3 linked regions of the Homo sapiens genome follow. The protein of the gene in region 2 interacts with the protein of the main gene of each other region in a biochemical or structural test. Each region holds a gene or a part of one and is shown on either strand. Other genes may lie near its edges.

Region 1 (3,754 bases), on a different chromosome or scaffold from region 2:
CATGTCTATTTAATACTCCTTTCCCATAGAAGGTTAGAGGTAAGTGGTTATATACCTGACATTGAGTGTTTAAGAACACTCCAACTGAGCAGACAAAGAAAACTCCAAAGCATCACTTACAAACAAGGGAAATAATCAGATAGAATATGACAATATATGAAAAAGGAGGAGGGAAGGAAGCACAGAAGCTACAAAACATTACAAACATAAATTTGATTGAAGCTTGTTGAAAATTATTCAGTGGCTCTCCACTATCTTCAGTTTAACAGTATAAACTCTTCAGTATGATAGATCCGATCAGATACAATGTAATCCCTGTCTAACAGATCCAGTCTAGACTCTCCCTGCTTTCTGTTTCAAGCCCTATTCTTAGTCCTGTCAGAATAAACAAGCTGCAGTTTCCCCAGAGCATCCTGGTCTCTCACATCCTTCCAAGCTGCTCCCTTTCTGCTTCTTTCCTTTCTCAAGATTCAACTCAAAGTGCAGTTCCTCTAGGATGCTTTCCCTGACTCCAAGCAACTAGGCAAGTTATACTATTATGTATGACCGTCATGCATATGCTAACCCAAAGCACCCTGGGCTTCCTAGTATCATAGCATCTATCACACTTTGTACTGAGTAGAAATTGTGGCAGGTATCTGTTTATCTGTCTTTTCTCCTCCATTGTGAGCCCCTTGTCAGCAAGGATGAACCTTACTCATTTTTACATTCCTAGTACCTAACACGATACCTAGCATACAGAAGGTGCTATAGGACCTGTGATTTAAATGGACTGTATTAAACAAATGTGAAGGATCCCTAGCAGGTATAAGTATTAAGAAAATGAAAAAGTGTACTAGCGTATAAACCAAGAGTGTATATGATAACATATAATAGTAAAGTTAATTAAGACTCATGATATTTGGTATTTTTGCTTTAACTAATATGCCAGCTAAGTATCATAGTACAAGGACACATAAGTCACCATCTTTGTCTTTGAAGAGCTGTGAGTATCAAGGGGGAGAGAGAGAAAGAGAGAGAGAGAGATGTAAATAGATAATGCACTGCGATAAACCTTATATTAGGATATGAGCAGAGTACTGTGGGCACATGAAAGGGAACAACTAACTTTCTGGGTTAGGCAGGACAGGAAGCACTAATTGAGCTGGGATTTAAAAGAAGAGCAGAAACAACATGCTAAGCAAAATAAAGAGAAATAAGCACCTGAGACAGACAAAAGTCATGAAGTGTCACACCACATTCAGGAGAAAGTGAGGCGTTCAGTATGACTGGACTACAGGGTAGACTGGAAGACAAATGGGGCCCAACCATAAAGCAGCCTGAACAAGCTAGGGACATGTTCCCTAGATTTGAGACTTGATCTTCCAGTTAACTCGAAGATAGCCTGCCTCTAGTGTTCCCACAATAGAATGGCATAACTCTATTGTGGCCTTTATCGTACTCTACTGCAATGTTTATCTTTCTGCACCATCCACTTTGCTGTGATCTCTTTAAAGACAGGAAATCTTGTCTTGTTCATTTTCCAGGGCACTAAGCATACCAACTTACATGGCACATATTCTTTTTTTTTTTAAATCCCCCAAGACGGAATTTCGCTCTTGTTGCTCAGGCTGGAGTGCTATGGCGTGATCTCGGCTCACTGCAATATCCGCCCCCCAGGTTCAAGAGATTCTCCTGCCTCAGACATGGCACATATTCTATAAACATTTAATTTTTTAAAAAATAGTAAATGTTTAATATTAATAAATTATAGGATGAGTAATATAAGAAATTTTAAGTAAAGGGATAATTGATAGAGACATTTTTTAAAAGTCTTCTTGAAAGTACATATTTGTTCTCCCCGACCTCCTTGTGAAATATGAAGAGCTAAAAGATTACTACAGTATGGCTTTTGCTTCAAAAGATGATGCTCCAAAGGAATGTTTTTAAACTTTTTTTTTTCTCAAAAGGAGCAGGAAAATCATCCTTCCACTTGGCATCTTCATAAGCTACCTGTTAAGGTAGAACCTCTCGTGCTGGCAGGGATATACAGTCATGAGCCACATAACAAATGTTTGGTTGGCAACAGACTACATATATGACAGTGGTTCCCTGAGATTACAAGGGAGCTGAAAAATTCCTGTCAGCTACTGACACTATAGCTATCACAGCATCACAGTGCAACACATTATTCATGTGTTTGAGATAATGCTGGTATAAAAAAAAACCTACTGCACTGCCAGTGTATAAAACTATAGCACATTCAATTATGTATAGTACGTAATACTTGATAATGATAAATGACTATGTAATTGGTTTATGTATTTACTATACTATGTATCTTACTATTATATCAGAGTATACTCCTTCTACTTATTAAAAAAAAAATTAACTGTAAAACAGCCTCAGGCAAGTCCTTCAGGAGGTATTCCAGAAGAAGGTGCAGTTTTCCTAGATGACAGCTCCATGTTATTGCCCCTGAAGACTTTCCAGTGGGACAACATGTAGGAGGAGAAGACCGTGATATGGATGATTTTCACCCTGTATAGGCCCATGCTAATGTGTGTGTTTGTGTCTTTGTCTTAGTTTTTAACAGAAGTTTTAAAGGTTAAAAAAAAATTAAAAATTTTAAAAACAGAAAAAAATCTTAAAGGATATAAAAAAATACTTCTGTACTGCTGTAGAATGTGTGTGTTTTAAGCTAAATATTATAAGAGAGTCAAAAAGTTTCAAAAAATTAAAAGGTTATAAAGTAAAAAAGTTATAGTAAGCTAATTTATTACTGAAGAAAAAATTATTTAAACAAACAGCGTAGCCTAAGAGTACAGTTTTATAAAGCCTACAGTAGTGTACGATAACATTCTAGGCCTTCACATTCACTCACCACCCACTAACCAACTCACCCAAGAGCAACTTCCAGTTCTGTAACCTCCATCCACGGCAAGTGCCTTATACAAGTGTACCATTTTTTCTCTTTTATAGTTTTCTTACTGTACCTTTTCTATGTTTAGAAATGCAGATACTTACCATTGTGTTACAACTGCCTATAGTATTCAGTACAGTGATGTTGCTCAGATTTGTTGAGTAGGAGCTATAGGCTATACCATATATCCTAGGTGTATAGTAGGCTATACCATTTAGGTTTGTGTAAGTACACTCTATGACGTTTGCGCAGTGACGAAACTGTCTAATGACACATTTCTCAGAAGGAATCTCCACCATTAAGTGATATATGAGTGGCAGTGCAACCTACTTGGGGACTCTATCCACACTGAATGTTTGAGTTCAATACAACAATAATTAATGAAATGCCTAATATGTGATATGAAAGCCTTGTATGCCATGCCAAAGAGAAAGGAATTTATCCTACACATGATGGAAAACCACTGATGTATTTTAAGTAGAAAAGTGAGACGGTCAGAAGTGCATTTTAAATAAACATATGTATGATAAATTTAAGTAGGAGTTTAGCTCAGAGGAAAGAAAATCAGTTTGAGATTATTAAAAAATGAAATATGATAAAAACCTAAAACAAGAGCAGCAATGGTAGGAATGAAGAAGAAAAGAATAAATTTAAGGAACATTTAAGAGGAAAAGTCAGTGGCACCAAAGAACTGACTTGACATAATGGAAAACAGAGGCAGTTTCCAGCATGGCAGACAAAGGGTGCCAGGGGTCTATTACCTGAGATACAAAAAACTGTAGTCTTCAAGAGGAAGTGATAATGATTTGTTCAGATATGTTAAACTGAGAGCCCAGGGAAATGTCCAAGTGC
Region 2 (3,754 bases):
CCATCCTCAAGTCAAAACAGCTCTTGTGACAACTACAAACTTTAAAAAATATCCACACGTTTCTTGGTACTGATTTAAAATAAAAACCTCCTTAATCAGTTTTACCTGCTTAAACACAAAGTTATCATACTGTCCAATATAACTCCAATAAACTACTCCTGCATACAGTCAAGCTAATAATAAACAGAGGCCAGAGGCTTCATGGCAGCAAATTTAAAAGTCCTTACATCAAGGACAAAAAACCAAACACCGCATGTTCTCACTCACAGATGGGAATTGAACAATGAGAACACATGGACACAGGAAGGGGAACATCACACCCTGGGGACTGTTGTGGGGTGGGGGGAGGGGGGAGGGATACCATTAGGAGATATACCTAATGTAAATGACGAGTTAATGGGTGCAGCACACCAGTATGGCACATGTATACACATGTAACTAACCTGCACATTGTGCACATGTACCCTAAAACTTAAAGTATAATAATAAAAAAAAAAGTCCTTACATCAAATCAATACAACATTTAGGGGCTCAGATTTTCTTTGAAATCAAAACAAGAGAGGTAGTTTGAGAGTTTGCTATCTTCACTGATCCTCTCAGGAATGTAAAAGTATGCATTAAAATTTCAACCTAGCACTGCTTGAGTTTTTTAAAGCAATTTACTTCTACCTGGACAAGCAGTAAGGCAAGCCAAAGTAGCTGGGTTTTCTGTGACTTCTCAGTCTCCAACCTTTATGGTCACACTAACATTTCACGTTTCTAATGCTCCTAAACATAATTATCTCAAAAAAAAATTCAAACCACAACTGAATTTAAAGGAAGGGGGGCACTTTGCGTCACTGATAGAAAATGATTTAACACAATGAACTTAGAACTGGGTTTTTTCTTGTAACCATAGTAAGGGAGTGAAGATCAGAGAATTTAAAACTGTAACTAGGCTAGTCTCCTCACCTTGCAGTATCTCACCCTATCGGGTAGTCGTTGAAACAACACTGAGAAAGAAAGGCTCACAAAATTTTGATTTACACACATGCAACTTAATCTTGACGACACGTAAGTACCCACTGCACGTCCCTGAAAACGCATCGACTTGATTCTTAAATACAACCCCTATGTCTAATATACTGGCAGTGCAGATACACTACGTGAACACAACGGGGATGGAGGTATATCTCAGAGAACCAGAGGCGTTAGGCCTGCTGGTAATCAAAACGGACAGCTAACTGAAGAAGTCCCGTTTTCTATCCCCACAGCAAACTGAGTTAACTAAGGCATCACTTGGAATCCTCAACTCGCAACCCCAAATACACCCAGACTTAAGGATGCAAGGCCCCTACAAAGCTCTCAGGAGGCGAGTCTCTCGTCCACACCAGGTGCACCTACTCTAACCCTAGCTTCCTTCTCGGACCCTACTCTGGCCCCTCGGCTCCCCGCACCGCCATACCTGGGGGCGCCCCCAGTACTGCATCCCCTTGCTTCGCCCCCACCCCTATCACTTCGTCACTCACCCTGAGTCACCGGAGCCGCCCGCCCGCCCAGCCCAATCCGCCCACAACACCTCCAGCCCCTCACCCTCCCCTCCTCCAGGCCGAGTGGAGCCGGCCTGTCCCCTCCCGCCCACCGCCCTGTCCCAGGACACTCACCCGCGGTAGTAGGCTTTCACCCGGACCTGGTGGGAATGGTCCCCGCTGCCGCCGCCTGCGACCGTGTGGGACATGGTGCTGCTGTCCCTCTGGGTCGGCATCTCCTCACTCCCCCGCCTCAACGCTGGAGGCCGGGGGTGCGGGGGGGCGCTTCGGGCGCCGTGGGGGACTCCGCCGCCTGCGCTTGCCGGAGAACCGCGGCCGTCCGCCCACCTACCTGCCCACCTCGCCCGCAGCGCCGACCCAAGGGTCGCCTCGCCGGAGCAGCCGGAACCGCGCGGCTCCTCCCACTGCCCGTAGGCGCCGCCGCCTCTACAGCCGCCCGGGCCCAAGACACCTCCTGCGTCGGTCCCTCCCACTTCGCTCGCTCCAAAGGCCCACATTCCGGGGTAGGGCGGGCGCAACCATCCAGCCAGCTCAAGGAGCCTCAATACCGGGCTGAACCATCCTTACGGGGGCAGAGAAAGGGGACAGAGGGAATGGGAGACGCTGATCATGGCATCAAACACGCCGAGAGGGGTGCTTTCACGCGAGCTGTGAAAGAGACAATGACCAGCTCTAGATCACTAAAGTCTCTTCCCTGCAGGGACAATGGTAGGGACAAATTCTACGACACCTCACCCTAGCCTCGCAACTTGGTCACGTCTGCGGTCGGCCGACTTGGCACCCGGGATAGATTTGCGTGCAGGTTTCTGGGATTTGGAGTCCTCATAGGATTCTGGGACTTGAGGTTCCTTGCGCGTAGGGTGCCGCGCCTTCCCGCTGGTGAAGTCTGTCTCTCCAGCGTGCTCCCTGGAGCTGTCGGGGTGGAAAACCTGGATCCAGCTTGGGCATCTGAAGGTCCTGGAAATGACTGGGCTTCCTCACGTTCTAGACTTTATTAACTGATGAAGTCTCCCTTCTTCTAATTGCATAAATCGTCTGAATTATACATGTCTTTTGGGGGAACAAGAATTTGGTTACCTGCTCAGCATAACCTCTTTTATGGAAATAATTTAATAACATATGTAACAAATATAATAAAGGAAGAAACTCAACCAGAAAATATGATGAAAAACCGATTTTTCTTCTTTGGGGGCCCCCATATCTAGGCCCTTGTAGACTGCCCTTGCATGGAACAAGAGCCCAATGAATACTTACCCAATCAAGTCAGTCAATCCAAGAGCATTTCATTCTGTAAAAACTGGCTTACCAAAGATTAGAAAGAATCGTCCTTGGCCGGGCGCGGTGGCTCAAGCCTGTAATCCCAGCACTTTGGGAGGCCGAGGCGGGCGGATCACAAGGTCAGGAGATCGAGACCATCCTGGCTAACACGGTGAAACCCCGTCTCTACTAAAAACACAAAAAATTAGCCGGGCGTGGTGGCGGGCGCCTGTAGTCCCAGCTACTCGGGAGGCTAAGGCAGGAGAATGGCGTGAACCAGGGAGGCGGAGGTTGCAGTGAGCCAAGACTGTGCCACTGCACTCCAGCCTGGGCGACAGAGCAAGACTCTGTCTCAAAAAAAAAAAAAAAAAAAAAAAAAAAGAATCGCTCTTGTAACCTAGTCTTTGACTTTCCTAGGATCTTGGCTCTGACACATAATTTACACTGCAACTACAGGTAGCATGAATCCAGCCCCTGCAGCAGTCCTGGTGCTGAAAGAGTTGGAATAATCAAAGAAATAGCTTTCTTTACGATGATAAAATAGGCTTGGGGGACTGAGTCATCAGTTATGTGTGACACTTCAGCGTGGTACGACATCCTCCAACTGCTACAGACTTGGATTATATACTCTTACTAAAAATTCCCCTTGAGTCAGGCAAAGTGCTACATGCCTGTAGTCCCAGCCTTTGAGAGGCTGAGGCTGGAGGATCACTTGAGCCCAGGAGTTCAAGGCCAGCCTGAGCAACATGGTGAGACCCCATCTCTTAAACAAACAAAAAAATCCCATTGAAAAACTTGGTATCAGGTTTTTCAGTAATTGGAGACCTGCATCAGCAAGTTTAATACGGAGCGATTAATTATGGAATATATTATAAAATATACGGGCACCTGTAATCCCAGCTACTCCGGAGGCTGAGGCACGAGAATCGCTTAAACCCAGGAGGCAGAGGTTGCTGTGAGCCTCTGAG
Region 3 (3,138 bases), on a different chromosome or scaffold from region 2:
GGCTGTCACACAGCACTTTTGTATAATTAGAAAATGGTGTCCTTCCTCAAGACACTTTCCATTTATCAGAAAATAGTTGTGATGTACAAACATGCAAAGGCTAGCCAGGCATGGTGGTGGGCACCTGTAATCCCAGCTACTCAGGAAGCTGAAGCAGGAGAATTGCTTGAACCTGGGAGGCAGAGGTTGCAGTGAGCTGAGATTGCGCCATTGCACTCCAACTTGAGCAACAAGAGCGAAACTCTGTTTCAAACAAAACAAAACAAAACAAACAAACAAACAAGTATGCAAAGGCTATGATGCGAATGCTGTTCCCTAGGATTGTGCAGCACACAACCTGCACAACTGTTCATAGCAACCCTGAATCCTTGGTAACCCAGAAACAGAATAGGCATGGGAGAAGTAGGAGACAGAACAGACTGGTTAGGGATAACGAGCTTACCCCTGAGAATCCAGGGCAAGGCTGTTGCATGGAGGAGGCAGGGTGAAATTTAGGAAGCTCCTTGACCATCCTACCTTTTCTCCCCATCACTTGCAGGTACCACTGTGTCCCGCCGCGTGGGCCCCCCAGTCTCTCTTGAACGCCGCAGCAGCAGCTCCAGCAGCATCAGCTCTGCCTATACTGTCAGCCGCCGCTCCTCCCTGGCCTCTCCTTTCCCCCCTGGCTCCCCACCAGAGAATGGAGCATCCTCCCTGCCTGGCCTTATGCCTGCCCAGCACTACCTGCTTCGGGCAAGATATGCTTCAGCCAGAGGGGGTGGTACTTCGCCCACTGCAGCATCCAGCCTGGATCGGATAGGTGGTCTTCCCATGCCTCCTTGGAGAAGCCGAGCCGAGTATCCAGGATACAACCCCAATGCAGGGGTCACCCGGAGGGCCAGTGACCCAGCCCAGGCTGCTGACCGTCCTGCTCCAGCTAGAGTCCAGAGGTTCAAGAGCCTGGGCTGTGTCCATACCCCACCCACTGTGGCAGGGGGAGGACAGAACTTTGATCCTTACCTCCCAACCTCTGTCTACTCACCACAGCCCCCCAGCATCACTGAGAATGCTGCCATGGATGCTAGAGGGCTACAGGAAGAGCCAGAAGTTGGGACCTCCATGGTGGGCAGTGGTCTGAACCCCTATATGGACTTCCCACCTACTGATACTCTGGGATATGGGGGACCTGAAGGGGCAGCAGCTGAGCCTTATGGAGCGAGGGGTCCAGGCTCTCTGCCTCTTGGGCCTGGTCCACCCACCAACTATGGCCCCAACCCCTGTCCCCAGCAGGCCTCATATCCTGACCCCACCCAAGAAACATGGGGTGAGTTCCCTTCCCACTCTGGGCTGTACCCAGGCCCCAAGGCTCTAGGTGGAACCTACAGCCAGTGTCCTCGACTTGAACATTATGGACAAGTGCAAGTCAAGCCAGAACAGGGGTGCCCAGTGGGGTCTGACTCCACAGGACTGGCACCCTGCCTCAATGCCCACCCCAGTGAGGGGCCCCCACATCCACAGCCTCTCTTTTCCCATTACCCCCAGCCCTCTCCTCCCCAATATCTCCAGTCAGGCCCCTATACCCAGCCACCCCCTGATTATCTTCCTTCAGAACCCAGGCCTTGCCTGGACTTTGATTCCCCCACCCATTCCACAGGGCAGCTCAAGGCTCAGCTTGTGTGTAATTATGTTCAATCTCAACAGGAGCTACTGTGGGAGGGTGGGGGCAGGGAAGATGCCCCCGCCCAGGAACCTTCCTACCAGAGTCCCAAGTTTCTGGGGGGTTCCCAGGTTAGCCCAAGCCGTGCTAAAGCTCCAGTGAACACATATGGACCTGGCTTTGGACCCAACTTGCCCAATCACAAGTCAGGTTCCTATCCCACCCCTTCACCATGCCATGAAAATTTTGTAGTGGGGGCAAATAGGGCTTCACATAGGGCAGCAGCACCACCTCGACTTCTGCCCCCATTGCCCACTTGCTATGGGCCTCTCAAAGTGGGAGGCACAAACCCCAGCTGTGGTCATCCTGAGGTGGGCAGGCTAGGAGGGGGTCCTGCCTTGTACCCTCCTCCCGAAGGACAGGTATGTAACCCCCTGGACTCTCTTGATCTTGACAACACTCAGCTGGACTTTGTGGCTATTCTGGATGAGCCCCAGGGGCTGAGTCCTCCTCCTTCCCATGATCAGCGGGGCAGCTCTGGACATACCCCACCTCCCTCTGGGCCCCCCAACATGGCTGTGGGCAACATGAGTGTCTTACTGAGATCCCTACCTGGGGAAACAGAATTCCTCAACTCTAGTGCCTAAAGAGTAGGGAATCTCATCCATCACAGATCGCATTTCCTAAGGGGTTTCTATCCTTCCAGAAAAATTGGGGGAGCTGCAGTCCCATGCACAAGATGCCCCAGGGATGGGAGGTATGGGCTGGGGGCTATGTATAGTCTGTATACGTTTTGAGGAGAAATTTGATAATGACACTGTTTCCTGATAATAAAGGAACTGCATCAGAAAAAATACCATGCCACTTTATGTATTATTATGTTGGGGAGGAATGATAACAGGGAACAAGAAGAGAAGCAGGGGTTAATCCACTCACTTTCCTCTTTAGAGAAGCTCCCTCACCCATCCCAACACCTCAAGTCACACTCATGAAGATAGAGACAGTCATTTGGGAGATTTAAAGGGATATCCTCAAAACAGAACACCAGCCTCTCACCACCAGAGATGACCGGAAATATGTTTTCTCTTCTTCCTTCCCTGCATCAGGGGAAGAGGCTGGTGAAGTTGGTGAGCATCAGCTGGACCAGCTGCCCTGGGTAGAGAGCATGGGCTGCTGGGTCAGATGTCTCCTGCTCTGGCCGAAACAGGGTTGGTCCAAACACAATTCCCAGGTTGTGGGGTGTCATGCGATTCTTATCTGAGTGTGCTATCACCCTGTAAGCAAAGGCCAAGGAAGGGGATATATGGCAGCAGCTTGCCACTTCATAGCAATCTAACTAACCCTTCAAAGTTCTGAGCAGGGAAGAGTTCACTCTGGGATTCCTCCACATGGTAACAAAAAAACCAAGGAGATACAAGGAGAATGGAGATGGACCAGTGGAGAAACCTTCAGGATACAACCTGAAGATATAACTGCCTCTTCCGACTTCAGGGGCTGCCCCA

Evidence for each region.
Region 1: the proteins of PRKCI (region 2) and FRS2 form a complex in vitro, tested with the Homo sapiens proteins (one study listed by BioGRID).
Region 3: of the proteins of PRKCI (region 2) and GLI1, one has a biochemical effect on the other in vitro, tested with the Homo sapiens proteins (one study listed by IntAct).

Annotation. Positions count from the first base shown.
Region 1 is NC_000012.12:69,564,435-69,568,188, reverse strand, and holds part of FRS2 (fibroblast growth factor receptor substrate 2), read right to left. Parts: exon of another isoform or gene 1,549-3,754; intron 1-1,548. UniProt on the Homo sapiens protein: Adapter protein that links activated FGR and NGF receptors to downstream signaling pathways.
Region 2 is NC_000003.12:170,220,660-170,224,413, reverse strand, and holds the start of PRKCI (protein kinase C iota type), read right to left. Parts: upstream 1,991-3,754; 5' UTR 1,745-1,990; coding exon 1,644-1,744; intron 1-1,643.
Region 3 is NC_000012.12:57,469,779-57,472,916, forward strand, and holds the end of GLI1 (zinc finger protein GLI1), read left to right. Parts: intron 1-538; coding exon 539-2,283; 3' UTR 2,284-2,490; downstream 2,491-3,138. Other genes in the region: ARHGAP9 (rho GTPase-activating protein 9), read right to left, coding at 2,739-2,910. UniProt on the Homo sapiens protein: Acts as a transcriptional activator. Binds to the DNA consensus sequence 5'-GACCACCCA-3'. Regulates the transcription of specific genes during normal development.